Linked DNA regions of Homo sapiens. The protein of the gene in region 3 purifies or fractionates together with the protein of the main gene of each other region. This does not show direct contact. Each region holds a gene or a part of one and is shown on either strand. Other genes may lie near its edges. The genes, in order: MRC2, ATRNL1 and TAFA2.

Region 1 (3,652 bases), on a different chromosome or scaffold from region 3:
GTATTTTTAGTAGAGATGGGGTTTCTCCATGTTGGTCAGGCTGGTCTCGAACTCCTAATCTCAGGTGATTCACCCGCCTCAGCCTCCCAAAGGGCTGGGATTACAGGCATGACCCACCACGCGCAGCCAAAAAAATGTTTTAAACTTAAAAGTATTTAAAAATCTTTAGCTAATGTTTTATACTCTTTTGTTCTTATACATATTTTACTATATATAATATTAGTCATATTAGTATGGAAGTAGGTTTTATTTACACACACATATACATATATAAGTTAAATGTACACACACATAGTTTGGTCATGTAAGCTCAATATTTTGTTTTACTAATAGGAGTTCATTATCAAAATCTTTGATAATCAGGCCGGCAATCAGGCCGGGCGCGGTGGCTCACATCTGTAATCCCAGCACTTTGGGAGGCCAAGGCAGGTGATCACCTGAGTTCAGGGGTTCGAGACTAGCCTGGCCAACATGGTGAAACCCCATCTCTACTAAAAATACAAAAATTAGCCAGGGGTGGTGGCAGGTGCCTGTAATCCCAGCTACTCGGGAGGCTGAGGCAAGAGAATTGGTTGAACCCAGGAAGCAGAGGTTGCAGTGAGCCGAGATCGCGCCACTGCACTCCAGCCTGGGTGACAAGAGTGAAACTCCTTCTCAAAAAAAAAAAAAAAAAATCTTTGGCAATCACTGATCTAGAACACTCACCAAATTATTTGGACAACCTTGCTTCCCGGAGGATTGGAAGGTGCTACTACAGTGAGTCATTTTCCAAGGAGTCTGGCCCTGGTACTGGAGCCAGGTGAAAGAGAAGTTGGTGGGTACAGGCAAGAGGCCATGAGTTTGGTGCTGCCAAAAGGCCAGGACTCCTGAGGCTCAGCCTTTCCCTGTTCACGTCCTCTCCCCTGACTCCCTTGGGTGCCCCATTGCCACCTCCTACCTTGTTGAGGAACTGGATCCAGTCAGAGGGGCAGCCCCCCAGGGCTGTAGTTGGCAGGTCTGGGGGCTGCGTTTCTTTGGTGACGTTGCTGCGCTTGCAGATGTAGGGCAAGGCTGTCAGGCACCTCTGGTCCCCCCAGTCCTCTGCGGAAAGGGGAGGGGAGGGCAGTCACCCCCAGGGCAGAGCAGGGCAGGGCATGGCTGGCAGCACACTCAGCCTCATGCCCTGAGAGGAGTCTGGGCAGAGGCTCAGGGCCTGTGTCCAGCTCCGAATTCAAGTCTTCTGGACCATGGAGACAGGTCCACCCCTCGCTGAGTCTAGCCTTTATTGGGTTGTGGGAACAAAGAGAATGAGAACAGACTGATGACTTCTGCCCAGGCTCGCCCAGCATTAACCCTTTGCACAGCTGACTGCGCACTCTGCCCCCACCTTGCCCTCACCTCGGCTGGCTGTCATGTACACGCACTTCTTGTCCTTGCCGACAGGCCGAGGTTTGCCTGGTGCCCAGGAGATGAAGTTTATAATGGAACCATCTGTCCATCTGCAATGGCATGGAGCAGAGGTAACTCCAGCACCGGCCCCCAGCTGGGCCTCCACCGGATGCAGCAATGAAGGCCGCAGGAATGGGGGCAGGGAAGGGCCCAGGTTCTGGGGTTTAGTGGCTGTAGGCTGAGGGGTGGAGCTACTGAGCTCAGGGCAGTCAAAGACCCAAGGACCTGGTGCCTCTAGATAAGGCCCCAGCTGTCCCTGGACACTTGCTGCTCCAGAAAAGAAGCCTGAGGACTCCAGGGCAGGAAGCCCAAGGGCAAAAAGACAAGCTCAAATTCTGAGTCCCAGGTGCTCCTGGTCCTTCCTGCCTCAAGCCCCCCAGTACATGGTAAGTAGGCACCAAATACAAAGAGGCCCCCGGATCATCATATGTTCTGCCCACTTCCCCGAGAGGGCCTTAGTCATGATGAATGACACCAGACGTAACAGGAGCTGCCATTATTTAGTAACTAATGTGCTGGATGCTGCGTAAGCACTTCGCATATGTTATTTCTAATCTTCACAAAAATCTTACCAGGCAGGCCTCATATTCCCATTTTCAGATGAGAAAACCAAGGCCCAGAAAGGTTAAGTATCTTGCTCAAGGCCACACAGCCAGCAAGGAAGGGGCAGGGCTGGATTCAAATGCAAGTCTGCCTCTGTGCTCCGTGTGTGGACAGCCAGCCCCCTTCCACATCTGCTGCCTGCCTGGGTTCCTACCTGAAGCGCCCATCGCTCTCAGAGGTGTGCAGGCCGATCCACCAGTGCTGCTCCTGGGCCCGGGAGAACTGGAGAAGCCAGGCGGGCAGGTGTGGGTAGGCAGCCCCCTGCCCTCATCCCGGGCCTGCCCTCCCCCAGCCTGCAGCCCCCTGCTCAATCCAATGCCCACCTTCTGCAAGTTGTGGCTCAGGAAGTCTAGCTCCGCCTGGCTGTGCACCGAGGTCAGCTCGGCCTGGAACCACGTGCAGATGCGCTGCGCCTGCGCCCACGTGGAGTGGTGCTCAAAGAACTTGTACTCGGCCTCCTGGAAGCGCAGCCATTCCCGTCGGCCTGCAGGAGCAGCGCGGGCGTGGGAGCGGCGGCCAGGCAGAGGCTGCACGCCAGGCCCCGGAGGCGGGCGCGGCAGGGCCGGGGCAGAGCCAGGCGGCAGCAGGCGAGCCTGCAGGCACACCGGACCCAGGCAGGCACCGTGCCAGGCCCCAGGCCCCAGGCTTGCCTCGCCTCCCACACGGAAGCAAACAGGGCTGTGGCTGCCTCCGTCCGAGCCAACCCCGTCCCCCTTCTCTCGACCGGAACTCCTCATCCCCTCCATTTCATTCAGGCCTCTCGGGACTTACCCCAGAGTTGACGCCCTCTCCCACGCGATGGGTAGCGGGATGGGCTGGGGGGTGCTCACCTTGAGGGCTGTCGTCGGGCTCCCGCACGTCCGTACCTAGGGGAACAAGGACAAAGACGTTGTGAGGAAAGGAGACCCTCCCTGGAATTCCTGGCCCCGCCACCCTTCGCTCCATCCCGCGTCCCCCAGCGCCACTCCGGCCAACCTCTGGGGATCTTGCAGATCCAGTCCAGCTGTGTGTCGCACTGCATGGCCACCCACTGCAGGGAGGCCAGGTCCAGCACCGCACAGCCTCGGATGTCGTCGTCGTCGTGCCGGCTCCGGTCGAAATTGTGGTAAGAGAACTGGAGGAGGCGGGTGGAGGGAAGAGGAACGTGAGGCGCAAGGTGCAGGCCGCCCCCATGCCCGGAACAGGTGAACAAGAGGCCTGGCCTGAGCTGCGAATTCTCACCGGGGGCCGGGTGACCCCTCTCGGACCTGCTTTCCTGAAGCCGGCTCCGACTGGGGGCCCGGCCCTCAAGAAAACCCGCCCACCTCCAGGCCCCGCCCCAAACAGGCCCCGCCCACCAAGCTCCCGGCCTCGCAGTCCCAAGTACCCCAGGCCCCCTCACCCCTACGCCGTCGCTCCAGCGCCAACTCTGACCCCCTCTGGGATCCCGACGGTTCAGGCCGATCCAGAACCAGTGCTGCTCGTGGATCTCGGGTTCTGATTCACTTCAGCACAACCCAGGAGTGGGGACGGAAGAGATGGGAAGTGAGAGGGGCAGGAACCCAAACGTGCCCCCTGTCCCTTGCAGCTGTGACCGGGGCAGCCCCCAGGGCCTGGGGCCTCTCCATCTGGGCTTCACATT
Region 2 (3,652 bases), on a different chromosome or scaffold from region 3:
ACAAACACAAATGGCGTCAGAATACAGCTGCCAAGGGAATTGCATAATGCTACTGGGAGCACTTGTTAGCCTTGTAGGAACTTAAGACCGTGTGAAACTCTTTCTGCTTGGGAGAAAAAAGTGCCAATCTTAGCTAGCTTCTTCATAGCAGAGAATATGGTTTATCTTTCTGCAATCCACTCTTTGACACTGACGCTCATCAAAAATATGCCTTTTCACCTGAATTAATTGGTATGTTCAGATTTGGAACAAAAAAGTAGAAAGTTTTACTTACTCCTGCTGCTCTCATGACCTGTTTCTCAATGTTGGTTGCATTCATTCATATCCCACTCATTGGTATCTGTCCCTCTTGTAATTAATCCAGACTTTATGTCCTTTTTTTTTTGAATAATATACTTTTCAGGGGCCCAGTAGTTACCATTCTACCACCATAGAAAGCTGCAGAATCACCTGAGATAAAGTTGGTATGCAGGTTTTTTTTTTTTTTTTTTTTTGAGATGGAGTCTCACTCTGTGGCCCAGGCTGGAGTGCAGTGGCCTAATTTCAGCTCACTGCAACCTCCACCTCCCTGGTTCAAGTGATTCTCTTGCCTTAGCCTCCCAAGTAGCTGGGACTACAGGCATGTGCCACCATGCCCAGCTAATTTTTGTACTTTTTTTAGAGATGGGGTTTCACTGTTGGCCAGGCTGATCTCGAACTCCTGACCTCATGATCCACCCAGCTCGGCCTCCCAAAGTTCTGGGATTACAAGCGTGAGCCACCGCGCCCGGCCGGTATCCAAGTTTATGTCCGTTGAGGATGCTTTGATTTGAACAAAGCAAAATATCAGTTATTTGGTAAAGTCCAAACAGACAAATAAAATCAGAAGTTCTTTTGCTTCTTTTTCAGTTCCCTTCTTCTCAACATCTGAGTGTCCAGGAAGCTCACAAAGAAAAAAGGAGCAAGACTCCTTGGATTTTTTTTTCTTCCAATACTTTAACCTGCAGTAAACAGGATTTGAAATGAGTGAATCTAATTAACATGTTGGTGTGTTTGATCCAGGTTCCAAAGAAACTGTAGTTACAGTTCAGTCAAAGGAGACAAAATAACAGCCACTTGGAGTCTGGTGTATCTATTAAACTCAGGAATATGTTGTGGTTGAAATGTATTCAATGAGATAGGGAAAGCAACAGTTTCCCTCTCTATACAGGAATTCTCTCCAGGGGATCTTTATCCCGATTCTAATTCCTTTCTCCTAACAGCCCTAAGTTCTCCACTATCATCATCTCTCTTCATTTGTCATATTTGAAACTTTTAAAGGTCAAAGGTCCATTTTAGGTTTTTGCATCAGTCCACTGGTTTCCCTCTGACCCTTTCTCTCCAGGAAACAGCCACTTGGAGTTTTCCTAGGAGTGTAGGCCATAACACAGCTTGTTTCTATAACGTTCATAAGTATCTTCAGGACTTTCTTATTAGATCATTGACTTTCTTGCAGTCCCTCCATAGGAGCAGCCACTGGCAGCCTGACTGATGAAAATACAAACAACTATCCCAGCAGCAATATTTATTTTCTGCCCGTCCACTCTTCCTTCCCTCCTTTGAGCTTTCTTGTTTTTCCTCTGAGAGGCAACCCATTCTAGTTAGCAATTATAGTAATGATATGGCTCCCATGAGTGGAGGAACACCAGGGCTCTTGTCTCACGTTGAATTAGATTAAACAATACGGACACACGTGGAGTGGTTTTAAGGAGCAGAGAGTTTAATAGGCAAGAAAGAAAAGAAAAGGCAGAAGGTTCGCTCTTACAGAGACAGAGGGATGGGGGCTCCACAGCCGAAAGAGGAAACCCCAAGTGTGGTGCGTACCAGGCAGGTATATGTAGAGGCTGGAGGAGGGGGTGTCTGATTTGCATAGAGCTTAGGGGATTGGTTTGACCAGGCTTTCATTCAGGTAGCCCTCGGAAAAAAACTGGCCTTCCCACCCTAGCCTTTTAATATGCAAATGCAGGGCACCATGATGTTCTACACACATGGGGATATGTGGGGCGGCCATATTCCCAAATACATGTGGGGCAAGGGCAAGAGGACAAAGGTGGGAATCGCCATGTTGAGTGGACCCAGTTTCTAATGGCTTGCATATGCATACTAAAGGTTGCCGGCTTGGCTCTAAGAGCTGGGACTTTTCTGTTAGACAAGAAACACTTTTGGAGGTGTTTTAAAAAGAAATGAAAACTTTCCAAGGACTCCTTTTTTCTCTATCTGCCTAAAATAATTTCTTAATAACTTCTATCACAGTAACTTCATAATTCTGAGATCCCTGTTGGTGGTAAATCTAGTATGTTGAAGCCTGTAAGTGTATGGCCCTTGGACAACATGGTCACCCAGTTGATACTAGTCCTTCTTGCTCAGATGAGTCATCTTCCCATTTAGAGGTAGCCACTGCATAAGGCAATGCACGTAGAGACTTACTGACTTTCTAGGCCTTTCATCACTCTCAGTGGTCCAGTCAAATATGTATTTGGTCCATAGTGGGCACCACTGTTACTTGAAGAGCTAAGGCAAAACAGTAACACAATGCAGGCTGGAATCCCAGCTGCAGCTGTTGTGTTCATTTGTTCCTTCAGGCTCTTGGCATGAAGTGGAGAGGTATGCCTGGGATGGACATGGTTGGATGTATTATGAGTTGAGCTCCCTGTTGATATCCTTTTTTAGGGATTGTGGTAAGGAATGGGGGTGTTGTACCTGATCAAGTGGGTGGCAGTGTGGTGGTTGCAGGCATAAAATGGCCTTTGTGCATAGCAAAACATTTCAAAACTAGGAGCCAGCTGCCCAGGAGAGTTGAATACAAGAGTTGAAGACTTGTGGGGAATGAGACAATGCGCACCTTCTCCTGCCTCAATAGTCATGCTTGTCTCTCGACAAACATTATTGTTCAATGAAAGAAGCTAGACATGAAAGATTACATACTGTTTGACTACATTTAGGTATAAAGTTAAAAAATAGTCAAAACGGCACTGTATTGTTTAGAAATGCGTATTTAGGTGGTAAAACTATAGAGTAAGGCAAAAGTGTATTCTCAAAAATGTCAGCTAGAGGATGTTGCTGGGGGAAGTTTAGGGGTGCTGATTAGGAAATGAAACAAGAGAGGCAATGCTCCACTTCTAGGCTTTGTGCAGGTCCAGAGTGTGTGTTTATAGGAATTTATTAATCTTATATTTTTCTTTATGTAATTGTATGTGTGTTATATTTCACAATAAAAGAGGCTAGAAAGTAGGGAAAAACTGGTTTGTGAAAGTCTAAGCTCTTATACTCTTAACAACTTTCTAAAAATTATTTAGAATTAAGCTTATGTTGTCACAAATTTTTCTTATATCCCATTCCTTCTCATTTGTTCTACTTTTTTGTTTTTTTACAATTTTTTTTGGTGGTATAACACACATAACATAAATTTTACCATTTTAACCATTGGTAAATAATCTTTAGTAATTTCTTTCAAATAAATTGTGACATAAACTTTTGAGTCTTTGCATGTCTAAAAGTGTACTTTTCATTTTCACTTGAATGATAAAATGGCTAAATGTGGTATTCCAAATAATTTTTTCCTTGGAACCTCTTTAGCACTCAGTGTTGTGGATAAGAATTCCAATGCCAATCTAATTTTCATTCCTTTGTGGAA
Region 3 (3,652 bases):
TCTCCTGTACTATGTAAAGCTAACTCTCTACATGAAGCCTGGAAAGTTCAAAGTAGTTTTTGATGAATGCAAGGTTTGTTTTACTAAATATAAATAAATATATATATATTTGCTGCTACAAACTAGTCACTGCATAATTGCATGCATGTGAATGGGCAACGGTGTTGCCCTTTAAAGGTCATGCAAACATTCTGAACCTTTCAATTTTCAGTGTTAATTGCCTATGGCCTCCTGTAGCTGCACATGGAACTTTCTGTTGAGTTTAATAATAAAGAAAAACACTTTGACTTTCTTTGGGTGGATTATGCAGCTCTTTATAAACAAGTCTTTGAAAATAAATTATAGTGGGCACTAGAACAGAAGATTTTTGTAAAGGTGCATTTGTGCTTTGGAATTAAAGTTTTCAAACCAGAATGTCCTGGGCTATGAGGAGACAGATTCCTTCTGGTACAAAAAACTGATCATTCAAAATTATTGTCTATATCTGAAAACTCTGCCATGGTTTTAAAAGGGTTATGTGGTTATAGGAATTTTAATAGCAAACTTCCACCTAGTGATAGAACAAAGAGACTTTATTAAAATATATTCTTTGAGAGGGCAGGCCTTCCAGGACCTTACAAACAATAGGGCATTATATATTGATGGAATGAATTTGTGACTTTCAGATCAGTCAAGAATTTAGAAATGGCCATTCATATTACTTGAGAAAAACAACATTTATACTTATATTTTTATCATTACTAGCTTATAGACAGTTCTAATTTCACAGAGGCACTGTCCAGTACTATTTTATTTAAAGTAGGAAACCTGGTTACTGTTACCATTTCTTTCTTAGTTTAGTTTTACCTTGTTATAGTTATATGGTAAATGGCATACTCAAATTTGTTGGTGCTAGAGTGTTCAGAAAATTTCTCAGAAATGGCTATCAGACAAGTCAGTAGCTGTGAACTGGTCTTGCTTGCTATTTGGGTTCTCCAGCTTTGTTTGTATTTTCTTTGGAAAGTTGAGTCAAATTGAGTGAAATAGCTCTAACTTTAGTTCTTTTTCACAGTGTAGAAAGAGAAAAGAGGTAGACGATCCACATTTCAGTGAAGCAATTCAAAGGCCAAGGGGAGAATGAGAGGGCATTGAAATCTCATCCTCCACAAAACAGAGGCCCCATTTTGGAAAACTTTAAGGAAAAAACTTAACCTAATTTTTAAAAGTTTAGTTCTTGGACTAAATCTAATGACTGTTATATGACAGTTTTTTTCCTGCTAAGATATGTATGTATTTAAACATTATTGCCAACCCCTATTAGACTGATAATTGGCATGCTTATAAATATACATTCAGAATTGGGTCAGAATTTATACTTTTTTAGTTGAAGGTATGTTTGCTCCTTCCATCATTTGTTGAGTGGTTAAAATTCATTAGCTTGCTATTTGGGTTAGCAGATAAATTTTGAAATTGACTATTATAAAACCAGTGTGGTGCAGTGGCGAGAGCTCTGGAGATGCTTTGTAGCTCTAACAATAAATAACCATGTGGCCATGAAAAAACCACTTTATTTCTCTGTGCCTCAGTTTCTCAGCAACATATTTCTTCAGTGGAGTTTTTAAGACAATTAAAATAAAGTGTTTTTTCAGCCAGGCACGGTGGCTCATGCCTGTAATCCCAGCACTTTGGGAAGCTGAGGCAAGAGGATCACTTGAGCCCAGGAGTTCAAGACCATCCGGGCAACATGATGAAACCCTGCCTTTACAAAAGTAAAAAAAAAAAAATTAGCCAGGCATGGGTGTGTGTGCCTGTAGTCCCAGCTACTTGAGAGGCTGAGAGGGGGGAGGATCACTTGAGCCTGGGAGGTCACAGCTGCATTGAGCTGTGATCACACCATGCACTCTAGCCTGGGTGACAGAGTGAGACTATGCCTCAAAAAAAAAAGAATTTTTTTTTTCCCGTGTGTTCAGACCCACTAAGTATCATGGCATGGAAGTGCAATAATATAGCGTGACATATTTAACCTTAAGGAGCTTCCCTTTTAGTTAGGAAGTCAAGGAAAATCTAGCAGATAGTTTCTGGCATTTAAATACCTCATATATACTTTCCAATAGATAAGTAATCTGTTATATGACAGTTGTTTCCTGCTAAGATATGTATGCATTTAAGCATTATTGTAAACCCCTTTTAGACTGATGATTGGTGTGCTTATCAATATACATTCAGAATTGGGTCAAAATTTATACTTTTCTAGTTGAAGATATGTTTGCTCCTTCCGTCATTTGTTGAGTGGTTAAAATTCATTAGCTTGCTATTTGGGTTCTTCAGCTTTGTAAGATTGAGATGGAGATGATGAAGATGATGATAATGATGATTATGGTGATGACTAAAGGCTATAGACCTTGGGACATAAAATTGAATCAGATTTAATCTTATAATTTAGTAATGTTGCTTTATCTGCATGATGCTGTTTTGTTATAAAACAAGTTGTGATAGGTCATGGGTCTCAGGTTTTTTAGGGTTACATGTCTTTGCTCTACTGATGGCTTTCATAGTCACTGAAATAAAATTAGTTCGATCAACTAGGCTAGAAAATAAATAATCTTCATATATTATATGATAATTAAACATATTCATTCAAAATCTATGTATGAATTTTGAGAATTTATAATCCTTGGAAAAGTCTGTTCATTTATTCAATAAGTATTTATTGGGCACTGTCTTAGTCAGTTTGAGCTGCTGTGATAAAAATACCACAGATTGACTGGGTGCAGTGACTCACGCTTGTAATCCCAACACTTTGGGAGGCCGAAGTAGGTGGATCACTTGAGCCCAAAAGTTTGAGACCAGCCTGGGCAATATGATGAAACCCTGTCTCTGCAAGAAAATACAAAAATCAGCCGGGCATGGTGGCAAGTGCCTGTAGTCCCAGCTACTGGGGAGGCTGAGGTGGGAGGTTTGCTTGAGCCCAGGAGGTTGAGGCTGCAGTGAGCTGTGATGGTGCCACTGCACTCCAGCCTGACTGACAGAGCAAGACCCTGTATCAAAACAACTACCACCACAAACAAAAACAAAACCACAGACTGAGTGATAAACAATAAGCAGTAATTTCTCACAATTCTGGAGGCTGGGAAGTTCAAGATCAAGGCACCAGCAGATTTGTCTGGTGAAGGTCATCTTCCTGGCTTGTAGACACCCACCATCTTACTAGACCCTCATGTGGTGGTTGTGGGGTGGGGGAACAGGTATCATCTCTCTCATGTCTCTTCTTATAAGACAATAATACTATTCATGAGGGCTCCACTTTCATGATATAATTACTTCTCAAAGGTCCCACCTACAAATACCATCACATTGGAGATTTAGGCTTTAGTATATGAATTTTGGGAAGACACAAACATTCAGTCCATAGAAAGCACTCTCTAGGTGTTTGGGCTATCTTAGTATACAAAAAAGGCAGACATCTGCCCTCATGATATTTACCATTTTAGTATATTACTTGGAGTTTTGAAATTAATCTGAAGGAATGGTTCAACAATGTATTGTGCTGTATGTTTTCTTCTTAGTCATTCTTATTTATAGCTGTGAAGTATAGGTCTGAAAAGAAATAATTAAAATAGTTAAATATTTGAGTTGAAATGGATTGTGAAGAAAAATATTATAGAATATATTT

Evidence for each region.
Region 1: the proteins of TAFA2 (region 3) and MRC2 purify together in Homo sapiens (affinity purification with mass spectrometry; one large-scale study listed by BioGRID and IntAct). This does not show direct contact.
Region 2: the proteins of TAFA2 (region 3) and ATRNL1 purify together in Homo sapiens (affinity purification with mass spectrometry; one large-scale study listed by BioGRID and IntAct). This does not show direct contact.

Annotation. Positions count from the first base shown.
Region 1 is NC_000017.11:62,679,663-62,683,314, reverse strand, and holds part of MRC2 (C-type mannose receptor 2 precursor), read right to left. Parts: intron 3,516-3,652; coding exon 3,413-3,515; intron 3,146-3,412; coding exon 3,007-3,145; intron 2,898-3,006; coding exon 2,862-2,897; intron 2,516-2,861; coding exon 2,355-2,515; intron 2,254-2,354; coding exon 2,186-2,253; intron 1,479-2,185; coding exon 1,378-1,478; intron 1,081-1,377; coding exon 938-1,080; intron 1-937. UniProt on the Homo sapiens protein: May play a role as endocytotic lectin receptor displaying calcium-dependent lectin activity. Internalizes glycosylated ligands from the extracellular space for release in an endosomal compartment via clathrin-mediated endocytosis.
Region 2 is NC_000010.11:115,302,749-115,306,400, forward strand, and holds part of ATRNL1 (attractin-like protein 1 isoform 1 precursor), read left to right. Parts: intron 1-3,652. UniProt on the Homo sapiens protein: May play a role in melanocortin signaling pathways that regulate energy homeostasis.
Region 3 is NC_000012.12:62,182,774-62,186,425, reverse strand, and holds part of TAFA2 (chemokine-like protein TAFA-2 precursor), read left to right. Parts: intron 1-3,652. UniProt on the Homo sapiens protein: Has a role as neurotrophic factor involved in neuronal survival and neurobiological functions.